Regions from separate parts of the Homo sapiens genome. Here region 1 is linked to region 2. Evidence: fine-mapped expression QTL. A gene starts in region 2. The other region holds a variant in brackets. All regions are shown on one strand. Distances are between the middles of the regions.

What was found.
Region 1: its variant is fine-mapped to the expression of MIR34AHG in monocytes after R848 (Quach 2016, PIP 0.95). The same link has a PIP of 0.9 or more in monocytes, monocytes after LPS and monocytes after Pam3CSK4.

Annotation. Positions count from the first base shown.
Region 1 is chr1:9,161,038-9,166,402 of GRCh38, forward strand. All of the region lies in intron 1 of MIR34AHG (MIR34A host gene), which reads right to left. Among named protein-coding and RNA genes, the nearest start is that of MIR34A, 12 kb to the left of the region's middle. RefSeq lists silencers at 1,668-1,737, 1,888-1,957, 3,728-3,777 and an enhancer at 2,888-3,217. The variant T/C (reference allele first, on the strand shown) is at 2,983.
Region 2 is chr1:9,179,792-9,185,156 of GRCh38, forward strand. MIR34AHG (MIR34A host gene) reads right to left here and starts at 2,547. Exons shown (of 2, transcript NR_132742.1): 1 at 2,216-2,547. LNCTAM34A (long non coding transcriptional activator of miR34a) reads left to right here and starts at 2,413. Exons shown (of 3, transcript NR_132738.1): 1 at 2,413-2,525; 2 at 3,842-4,016. RefSeq lists enhancers at 1,101-1,962, 1,875-2,024, 1,963-2,823, 2,135-2,484, 3,685-4,545 and silencers at 2,525-2,884, 3,195-3,284, 3,295-3,404.

The sequences.
Region 1 (5,365 bases), 19 kb before region 2:
TTAACAAACAGCATCTCTGTCACAAAGGGTTCGGTAACAGCAAAAACTGCTCCCCTGTCCTGTCCCTGCAAAGAATGCCATGCAACGGGGGTTTCAGACAAGCATTGTATCTGCTCTTACCCCTCCCCTTCCCAGTAAAATGTTTGGGTGATGTTCCATGGCAGGGAAACAGATAGAAGAAGGCACAGCCTGGTTCAAGGAAGAGGGCAAATGCGTTTTCAACGATGCCAAACTGGGCAAAACTAGTCCTAGTTTCAGGTGGGGTGTCCTGGGCTTGTTCTTCACTGAAACAGACCTGGGCTCCTTTTCTTCCTGTCCTCAGGCCAGAAATCCCCCATCAATTTGTCTAAGGGAACCATCACTGGCCAAGATACAGAGGGGGCAAGAACACAGGAGACCGAGTCTTCTTACCAGGAGAGGTGATTTCAAAACTCCAAACAATCTCCAAGTAAAATCCAGCCCCAGTAAGGGCCTGTAGCATAAATTTGAATTTTGGAGGGAGTCCAGCCCTCCACGTGTTTCTCTGATAGGAACTGGGAGAGCTTCCCCCATACAGCCAAGTCCTGTCGCGGAGCAGTCCCCCGACCACCCTGTCTCTGCCCCAACCCCTCCTTATGGAGGCAAACAGGCCACCAAACTACAGCCTCCCACGGTGTTCCATCAGCAGTCACAGGAAAACCCTCATGGCTTCTGGGCTTTGCCTCCCCAATATGCCACCCAGCACCCAGGCTCCATAAGAAATCTGCTTTCAGAATCAAAGACCTGAAAATTAGAAATGCTTTTCTAATGCCGAGGCCAAATTTCCTCCACACAAAACACCACAAATCCCTCTCCAAACAATTCGCGATTGCCCCCCAATCTCAATGGCCTTTTTCTCGGGTTGTAAATGTTCCCTAAAGTTGTCAGTGAATTAAACCAGAAAAAAAAAGAAAGAAAGAAAAAAAAAAAAGAAAGAAAAGGGTGGGTTACCTGCTCTGTGGGCCAAAGAAGGACCTTGGATTGATCGGATGTCAGCTCTGGTCCTGCAGCTTCCCCAGCCTGGCTCCACCTGTCTGACCTGTTGGGCTCGCTGCCGCCTCTGGGCCTGGCACAGCCGCAGGGAGCGGGGCTCGCTGCCAGCACCCAGGCCCCTCCATAGGTGTGCATTCACCTGCCAAGAGGTGCAGGCGCACAAGTGCCCTCCCCTCTCTGCTCCCACCATGTGACCTGCCCCCCAGCCGGACAGGCACTGGAGCATCTCCCTCGGTGTCACTGGAATTTCAAACCTGAAGCTGGCAGAGAGAAAGAAGAAAGGGAAGAAGAAGAGGGGAGGGGGACAGAGGAAAAATCCTGGCCCCCACAACTAACCAACAGTCCTTCCGTGATGTCGTGGAGGTCAGGCCAGGTGGGGCCAGCAGCCCCGTCACGGTGATCGTCAGGGTCAAATTCCAGGGCTGCTCTTTCCCCCTGGGTGGCTATTTTGGGAAAGCAGCTTTTCTCCAGCAGTGGACAGACTAGCTACTATGGACGCTGGAATCCAGAAGACTCAGAGCTCTGCCAGGGCCCAGCACAGGTAAAGGCACGGAGGACAGCCCTGGGAGCAAAGAGACAGTTTGCCCTCAGGTGCCCCTGAACTCCGCTCTGAGCACACACAATCCCACGGGTCCCTCCTGTCCCTACCCTTCAATAAGGATCACCCAGCACTTGGGGTCCTATCTGGCTTGGAAGAGGACGTGGGGCTTGAGGTATTACCCAAGGTGTTGAGGGGGTACAGCTGGAGGGGCAGGTGGCATCAGGTCTAGCGGCAAGGCCACTATTTTCCTGCCCTCCAGGACTGAGAGCCCTTAGCAGCCAGATTTGGCTTCTCTTCCCTTTCACTCCCTGGCCCCTGATGCCCGTCAAGCTCAAGTCGATACTGAACAACTGAGTACACAGCACAGCCTGGGTGTGAGGTCAGACTCTGTGCCTGGGATTGGGGCGGGTCAGGCATCTGACTCTGAGTTTCAACCACTGCTCAAGTTCAATCATGTGCTTCTAAGCTGCCAATCAAGCCAAACCTCTGGGAGTCACTGAAGAATAGAAACCGCAAGGCCAAGAGGAGGGTTGTGGTGCCCTGTGGTCTTGATAACTTGGGTTTTGAATGCAGGGTGGATGTTAAGATATAAAGCCCTTCCTAGGAAACCAGAAGACATCCTCCTAAGGAGGCAACAAAGCAGGGCAAGGCCCAGGAGAGGACCTGTGATGGAATTCAGACAGAGCCCAACCTCCCAGGGTACAGCCTTGTTCACGGGGCGCGGGAGGAGAAGGCTAACTGCTGCTGAGTGTGGCCAGGCAGGTCTTCAGCTACTGACATCAGGGCTGTGTCCACCCCTCAGAGCAGCACTGAGCTTGAAAGTGAAGCCCTGGCCGAGCGCGGTCGCTCACGCCTGTAATCCCAGCACTTTGGGAGGCCGAGGAGGGCAGATCACCTGAGGTGAGGAGTTCAAGACTGGCCTGACCAACATGGAGAAACCCCGTCTCTACTTAAAAAAAAAAAAAAAAAAAAAAACAAAAAAGTGAGGCTCTCTCTCAAAGCCAGCCCTTGCTCTGCTGCCCCAAGAGGGTCCTGCAAACACACGGGCCTTGTCCAAGGGGCCTGATGTGCAGGAGAGGGGCAGGGCCCAGGGCAGTGACCCCGAAGGGCTCCATCCTCGGACCTGACTCCTCCTTGCTCATAAACAACCAGGCCTTTGCCTTCCTCCCACACCAGTCCCCGGGTCAAAGGCCTTAAGAAAATCCCCGGTGCACTAGCCAACTCAGACCGCCCTGGCCCTTAGATCATCCGCTAGTCACTGGGCTGAGACCCAAAGGAGAGGGAAATATTTGGCGATTTCAGGGAACTGAACAGCAAAGGTGTTCACAATCAGACCACCAGCAGGAGTGCGGCACGCCCCTTAAACACTCTAAGGAAGTATTTACCAAGGCTGCTAAAAAAGAAGTTGAGGATTTCTGCCTCTGATTTAG[T/C]AGAAAATAATCTTTGAAATTTACATACAAAGTCCCATGATAAGTCATTTGGGATCCCCCAGAGGAGGAAGGCTGCTTGCGGTTAGACTGGGTGAGTCAACGAAACAAACAAATGGGCCCGATGAGGTCAGCTTTTTGGAAAAGGAACAAAGAAAACTGCACCCAAATGAGAGGCAGCTTACAATGGTGAAGCAGTGGTCACAGAAAATCCATTTCCAAAGCCTCTAATCCAGCAGTTTGGGGGATGATTTTGTCACCCAGGGGACATTTGGCAATATCTAAAGACATTTTTGGGGCCGGGTGTGGTGGCTCATGCCTGTAATCCCAGCACTTTGGGAGGCCGAGGCGGGCAGATCACTTGAGGTCAGGAGTTCGAGACCAGCCTGGCCAACATGACAAGACCCTATCTCCACTAAAAATGCAAAACTTAACTGGGCATGGTGGCACACACCTGTAATCCCAACTACTTGGGAGGCTGAAGCAGGAGAATCACTTGAGACTGGGAGGTGGAGGTTGCAGTGAGCCAAGATCGCATCACTGCACTCCAGCCTGGGTGACAGAGCAAGACTCTGTCTCAAAAAAAAAAAGAAGAAAAAAACCCAGACGTTTTTGATTATCACAATTGAAGGGTAGGGAGTGCTCCTGGCTTCTAGTGGGTAGAAGCCAGGAATGCCGCTAAACATCCTACAGTGCACAGGGCAGCCCCCACCACAAAAAATCATCTGGCCCCAAATGTCTGTAGCACTGCCACTGAAAAACTGTTCTCATCCACCGAGAACTCTCTCTCTCTTCCTTGCAAGTCCTGGGCAAAAGGTTGTTTTTAGTAGCCCAGAGGGCCATGGTGGTGACAGCTCCTCCCTGGGTGATGCCAGGCTTCAGGGGGTCAGCATCTTTGGAGGGTCCTCTAGGCATAGACCCCAGCTTGGGCAAGCCACTTGGCTGCCCCTGCATGGGTGACCCTGCCTGACTGCCCCTGGCTGCAACAGCCCCTTGCCGAGGCTTCTAGACCCTCAGAACCTCCCCCCTGCTGCTCTGGCTCTCAAGGTCCCACAGTAAAGCCACAGGAATGAGAAGGAGCGATGACAGTTCTCATCATCCCGTCATCGTCACAGCAGACTGGTAGGTGCTTTACAGGTGACAATGAGCTTTCACATTCGTTGTCTCACCTGAATACATAAAAGCCTCACCCACTGTTAAAACAATCTGAGTTCTTGACCTGCCAGACCAGTGGAACATGCAGAGGCCACCTGTCCCCGATGAGGGCCTGGGGGAGAGGGAGCCGTGCATTCATCTGGGGAGACCCCAGAGTCCAGAGCTGGGCAGAGGTGACAGCAGCCTGTCTAGGGGACCTGGGGGAAGCCAGGGTTCTGGCTGCTCCACGGCAGGCCCTGAGGTGGAGGGTCTAGACCCTGACCAGGCACCAGTCCTGCTGAAATGAGGCTCCGGAAATAGACGCACATCACACTCCCTGGAGTATTTTCTGGGCGGCCACAGAGTTCAGCAAATAGTCAACAGAAAGCATCTCCAAGAAGTGGGTGAACCGGAAGGACACATGCCCAAGGCTGATATGGGAGGTGTTTGGGGACTTAGGGAAGAAGCAGGACAGAAATAGGCCCAGCTCATTAACTGCATCTACATATGAATTGCTTGACTTTTTTTTTTTTTTTTTTTCAGAGACAGGGTCTGGCTTTGTCACCCGCTGAGCTGCAGCACAGTGGCATGATCATAGCTCACCAGAGCCTCAACCTCCCCGGCTCCAGCCATCCATCTTACCCCCTCAGCTCCTCTAGTAGCTGGGACCACAGGTGTGCACCACCATACCACGCCTAGCTAATCTTTTTTTTTTTTTTTTTTGAGACGGAGTCTCACCCTGTCCTTCAGGCTGGAGTGCCGTGGTGTGATCTCGGCTCACTGCAACCTCTGCCTCCCGGATTCAAGCAATTCTCCTGCCTCAGCCTCCCAAGTAGCTGGGATTACAGGTGTGCGCCACCACACCTGGCTAAATTTTTGTATTTTTAGTAGAGACGGGGTTTCACTATGTTGACCAGGCTAGTCTCGAACTCCTAACCTCAGGTGATCTGCCCATCTCGGCCTCCCAGAGTGCTGGGATTACAGACGTCAGCCACTGCACCTGGCAACCCGGCTAATGTTTAAAACAATTCTTTTAGAGACAGGGTCTTACTATGTTGCTCAAGCTGGTCTCAAACCTCTGGGCTCAAGTGTTTCTCCAGCCTCAGCCTCCCAAAGTGCTGGGATTACAAGCATGAGCCACCGCGTCTGGCCCGTTTGAGTTTTTATGAGTATTATTACTTATTTTATAAATCTAAAAGAACATTAGGAAAAAATAAGAATAAGGGCAGAATATCTCGTATCCACACCCCCT
Region 2 (5,365 bases):
CACCCTGCTCCCTGGTTTATGCACATTCTCGAATTATTTTATCTCATGCGTCTACCAAGTAGGTCCTAACATAAGGGCAATTTTTATAGATGAGGAACCAAAGCCAGGAAAGGAAGTCCTATTTCCAAATTAGCACAGCTAGTGACAGAGACGGAGCTGGAAGGCGGGTCCTTAACTCAAAACCCGTATCCTTACTGGAACACTGGGGCCCCAGTGGGGTCCTGAGGTGCCTTACGAATGGAGAAAAATGATTGGCACCATGTATGTCAGTGACCCGCATGGCACTGCCTCCCAGAGCCTGCACTAAACAGTTCGTTCTTACAAGTATGTCAGACAGACAGCTGTAGCTGCAGTACTGATGTGTGCTCTCTGGGAAGGAAGGATCTGCCAACCAAGGCAAATTTCAGAGCTAGACAAGAAAACTTCCTTGTTTTCATGTGATATTCATTACCAAGTATCACGAGTTGATCTTCAGTCTCACCCGCTTTCTTGCAATTTCTCCAATGCACCAAACACAGGGCCTTTGCACTTACTAACCCTTCTGCCTGAAAAGCCGTCCCCCTCATCCTTCTGTAGGTTTCTCCTCAATGACTCATTGCGTATAGCAAGGACTCTGTAAATATTTGTCGCATGAATGAATGAGTCCCGCCTAGTTATTTTCTTATGCACAGATCTGATAACCTCTAGCTGGAGGTAGTGTATCCTATAACCAAGGGCAGCATCTTGTTCATCCTTGCATCCTCCTACACCCCCCGGCCCAGGGACCAGTTACAAGGGCAGGTGTAGGGCTGGGTTGGCAATTAGGTGACACAATCAATGGGAAGCACTGCATGGATGCTATGATCAGAAAGACCTGGGGGCCTGTCTAGGTTTAGCATTATTGATTTGCGATGTGTGCCAAGGGCAGGGGTGGGGTGCAAAAGTGCAGTCCTCATGGCCACCACACCAGCTAGCCAAGGGATCCTGGAGGCCCAAGAGAAAGCTGGATTGGGAGGGGAGAGCAGGGCAGTCCTGGCCAGTTTTGGCCAGCTTGGGGAAGCTCAGGAGACAGGCCACTACCCCATGTGGCAGTAGGTGCCAATGGGCTCAGGTACCAACTGATGCTGCCCCCAGCTGCTCCCTCTGCTCCTGGATAGTCCTTCAAGAGGAATGTTTGCAAGCACAGGTACCTTCCCTCTTCCTCAGCCATGACTACACAGCATTTGTGGCTCATGCAGGAAGACACAGGGGCTCAGAGGAGTGGCCATTTGTCCCAAAGATATCTCAGAACTGGGCAGAGGCAGAACTGGCTAACATAACTGCAGTGGGCCGTTTAGCCCCCTTAACATGACTTGGTATCTGCTAGAGTTTCACATGCATGTATGCAGAGATCCCAGCCACCTCTGGGCTCCAGGAGCCTAGTGTGGATGCAACAGGAAGGCCCAGGCTCTGGAACCTTCTGCAGAGCCTAGCTCATGTCCCCCACCTGACGCAGAAACAGGGAGGTGCTGAAGCATGTGCCCTGTCTGTGCTACAGGCCCCATCCACGTAACCTGAGAGAGGGGGCCTCAGGAGCACTGGCACCTGCTGCTCCAGGCCAGGAGCAAGGAACTCCAGGGACCACCTCCCCTCAGTCTCCTTCCCCACTGGCGGCTCACAGGCTGGACAGGGCTCCAGCCAGCAGGGGGCGCGCGCGTTCACCTCGGGGCCAGGTTGGCTGAAAGCCCCTCTCCCGTTCCCCTCTTCTAGAGCAAAAGTCTTCCAAAGCCTTGACCTCTTAGACAACGCTACTTTAGTGACCGAAGCACTTTTCCTTTCCCTTTCATGCGAGTTTTTTGCAACCATGGGTGGCTAGTATCAATGCCTCCACTTTCAAGGTGAGGAGAGGAACTGGGGAGGTTGAGCATTTGCTGCAATATCACCGTGGCCAGCAGCGCAAGAGAGCCAGGGTCCCCATTTGCCACCCATGAACCAGTCGGCCTTCCTCGCCCCACGCTGGAGATAGAGGAGGGAAGAAAGAACTAGCCGAGCAAAACCCCAAAAAAGGAATCCTTTCTCCCCAGAGATTATGAAATCAAAGAACATTTTGTTGCTTCTTGGAAATTCTTCCCCTTACGGAGGCTACACAATTGAACAGGGTTTTCATTATTATGACTATGATTATTAAAGTTGTTGGTCTAGTTCCCGCCTCCTTCTTTGCAAACTTTCGCACGGACTGAGAAACACAAGCGTTTACCTGGGTGCATGCTGGGACGGGGCGAGCAGGTAGTGCAGGCTTCCAGGCCTCTCCTGCCCCGGAGCTTGGCTGCAGGACTCCCGCAAAATCTCCAAATGCCCCCGATCTGCGTGGTCACCGAGAAGCAGCCCGGCTCGGAACAAGCCCAGGCAAGCCCAGGCAGAGCCCGCCGCCGGGTCCTCCTTCCTGCTCGTGCCACCAGGCCCCGGGGCCGCGACGCGTCTCTCCAGCCCGGGATCCGGGGAGCTGGGCTGTCCCCAGACCGACGGGACAGCGGCATCTCCTCCACCTGAAAAGGAAAGAGGACCAGGTGGGGGCCAGGCAGGGCGCATGAAGGCGGCGCCAGCACCGCGCGATCCGAATCACGTCGGTGCGGGGGAGGGGTCGGAGCCTGGCCTCGGCCTAGGGCGCAGATGCGGTGCGCACCGCAGGGGGGCGGCGTGGGGTGCGGGGCCAGTCCCGCCGGGCACGGGGTCCTGGTCCTCATCCCCTTCACCGCCGCCGCCCGCCTGGGCTGGCGTTTCCCCAGCGAGAGCGCGTAGTTTGCGCAGCGCCCCTCGCCCACGCCGCCGCTGGGTCGCGGGGCGCGCCTACCCAGAGCCGAGGTCCCGGACTCCCCGGCCATCGCGACCCTTCCGGGGACTCCTCGCCCCTTCGCGGTGGGACCAAGGCCCGGGTGGGGCCGGGACAGGGTGGTGGGGGGAAGGGGGACCGTACAAAAGCAAACAGAAACCACGGGGGGCTCGCCGCGACGCCCAGTCCGAGGGCCTCTCGCCTGGAAGAGGGAAGAAACCCACGTCCTGGACGCGGGTGTGGGGTCTGTCCCGGGTCAGGACCTGTTGTCTCTGCGACGTTGCCAGTCCGGAGAGCTCGGAGGGCCAATGCAGCCCCGGATTCAACAAGATGCGAAAGGACTTCTAAAGCCAGGAACCGGCACCCAGCCACGGCCACCGCCCGCCGGCCCGGCGCCCTGCCCCCACTCACTGCGCCCCCAAGTTCCGGCGCCGCGGGCTGCAGGGGTGACTTGGCTCGGCGTGCCTCGGGGCACGAGGCTCGGCCCCGCACGGCTCTCGGGTCCCGGGGGGCTGGGGTGGGAAGGGACATGGCCGGCGCGCGGCGCTGGGGAGCCGGGTGCGCCAGGCTGGGGACCTTGCGTGGGGCAGGGCTTGGCTCAGCCGAGGGGCCGCGGCTCAGCCCCCCTCACCGGCCTTAAAGGTTCCCAGAGACGCAAAGTCGGACGCGGGTCCTGAGCGCGGAGCTACAGGGGGGAGCATGGGGCAGCCCCCAAGGCGCGCTCCCTGCATTTCCCACCCTTTCCACGCTGCCCTGCGCGCACGGTCGGGCGCCCTTGGGGTGGGCAGGGAGGCGCGGGCAGGGGCAGCGCCGAAGACCTCCCGCCGCCATGGAGAAGGGGCTCCCCACCCACCCTCCTGCCCCAACCATTATAGATCCCAGCCAGTGCGCCCCGCGCCCTTCCGGGACAAGCTGCCCCCAGGACCACCGTGCCCCAGTATCAAGCGGACAGCAAATCTCTCGGTGGCTCCTTTTGTAAGGGTTTCTGCCCTCAGGGTTGTTACGGGACAGAAATGGTTTCATCAGAAACAAGCCCTCCTCGCACACTCACAGTTTGCAGGACTCCGAACTGGGCCCGCGAGATCTCCACCTGCGCAAAACGAAAGGGCGGATTCTCCTTGGACTCACGAGGCAACCGCTCCCCGGGGTGAGAACGGGGGACTCATTCCTCCGGCACTGGGAGAAGACGATTCTTTAGGAGGAGGACAGGGAAGCGAATGCTACCCAGGTGCGTAATCACATTTGGGCACCCTCGGGGGCCTGAGAGGAGGCCAGGGGTGACCTGCCCCCATTCTCACAGGGGAGGGGCGGTGAGCCTATTCTCACAGGTGTCTGTGATGAGCCCATGTTTTCCAAACTCCTCCGTGATTCTAGAACAGTGCTAGAGAAGCCGTGAGCCAGCTGGCAGGTGAGAACGCCCAGGTGCAGGTGGATGGCTGCAGGTCAGGCCTACTTTTCCTACACCTGTTGCTGGGGGGCAATCCCATACCCACTCTCAGTCCAGAGTGCCTGTCACCACAGGGCAAGTAGGTGAAGGGCTTCTCAGATCCTCAAAGACTCAGAGGGATAAAAGGAGGCAGATGGGTCCTAGAGGCAGCCCATGGCAAGGGAGAGGTCTGCTTTTTTCTTTTTTTTTGAGACGGAGTTTCACTTTTGTTGCCCAGGCTGGAGTGCAATGGCCTGACCCTGGCTCACTGCAACCTCCACCTCCCAGGTTCAAGTGATTCTCCTGCCTCAGCCTCCTGAGTAGCTGGGATTACAGGTGCCCACCACTATGCCCAACTAATTTTTGTGGAGACGGGGTTTCACCATGTTGGCCAGTCAGGTCAAATTCCTGACTTGAGGTCAAACTCCTGACCTCAGGTAATCCACCCATCTCGGTCTCCCAAAGTGCTGGGATTACAGGTGTGAACCACCACACCTGGCCGAGGTCTGCTTTTCTGATCAGACAAAAGTGGGTTCCAACCTTGACTCACTACATGGCCTGGGCAATGTGCCAGCATCTTCCCAACCTCTCCCTGCACCCCCAAATAATCTCATTCAATCTTCAAAAAGCCCTTTGAGATAAGTCCTAGGACTGCTGCATTTACAGGTGAGGAAATTAGGACCTGAAAGGTAAGACTGGGTTGGCCACAACCAACGCAGGGAGGAGAGCGGGGTGGACCCACGACCCAAGGTGGCGCCTGTCGGTTCTCCAAGCCCTCACTCCTCATGTACCTGCCATCCTGCCTCAACTTCGCAAATTGCTTACGCATGCTGAGCGTGTGTCCTCGTGTACACCGACAGCATCAGGCTCCTAGTATGGATGCAATAAGTACTGTGGAATGAATGAATGAATGAATGAATGAAATGAATGCACACCTCCCTACCCCCAGGGTGATGATAAGGACTGTGCAAGACAGAGTGGCTGCACACAGTAGGCCCTCTCATGCATGCAGTCGCTCTTCTAAAACATCTCTATGAAGCACCTGTTTTGTTCCAGGCATTGAGGGAACATTGGTGCTCATTGGTTCTCTGTTCCTTGCAGACAGACCTGGGAGCATTCTCCTTGGAGGTCCCCACCCTTGTGGGCTCTTT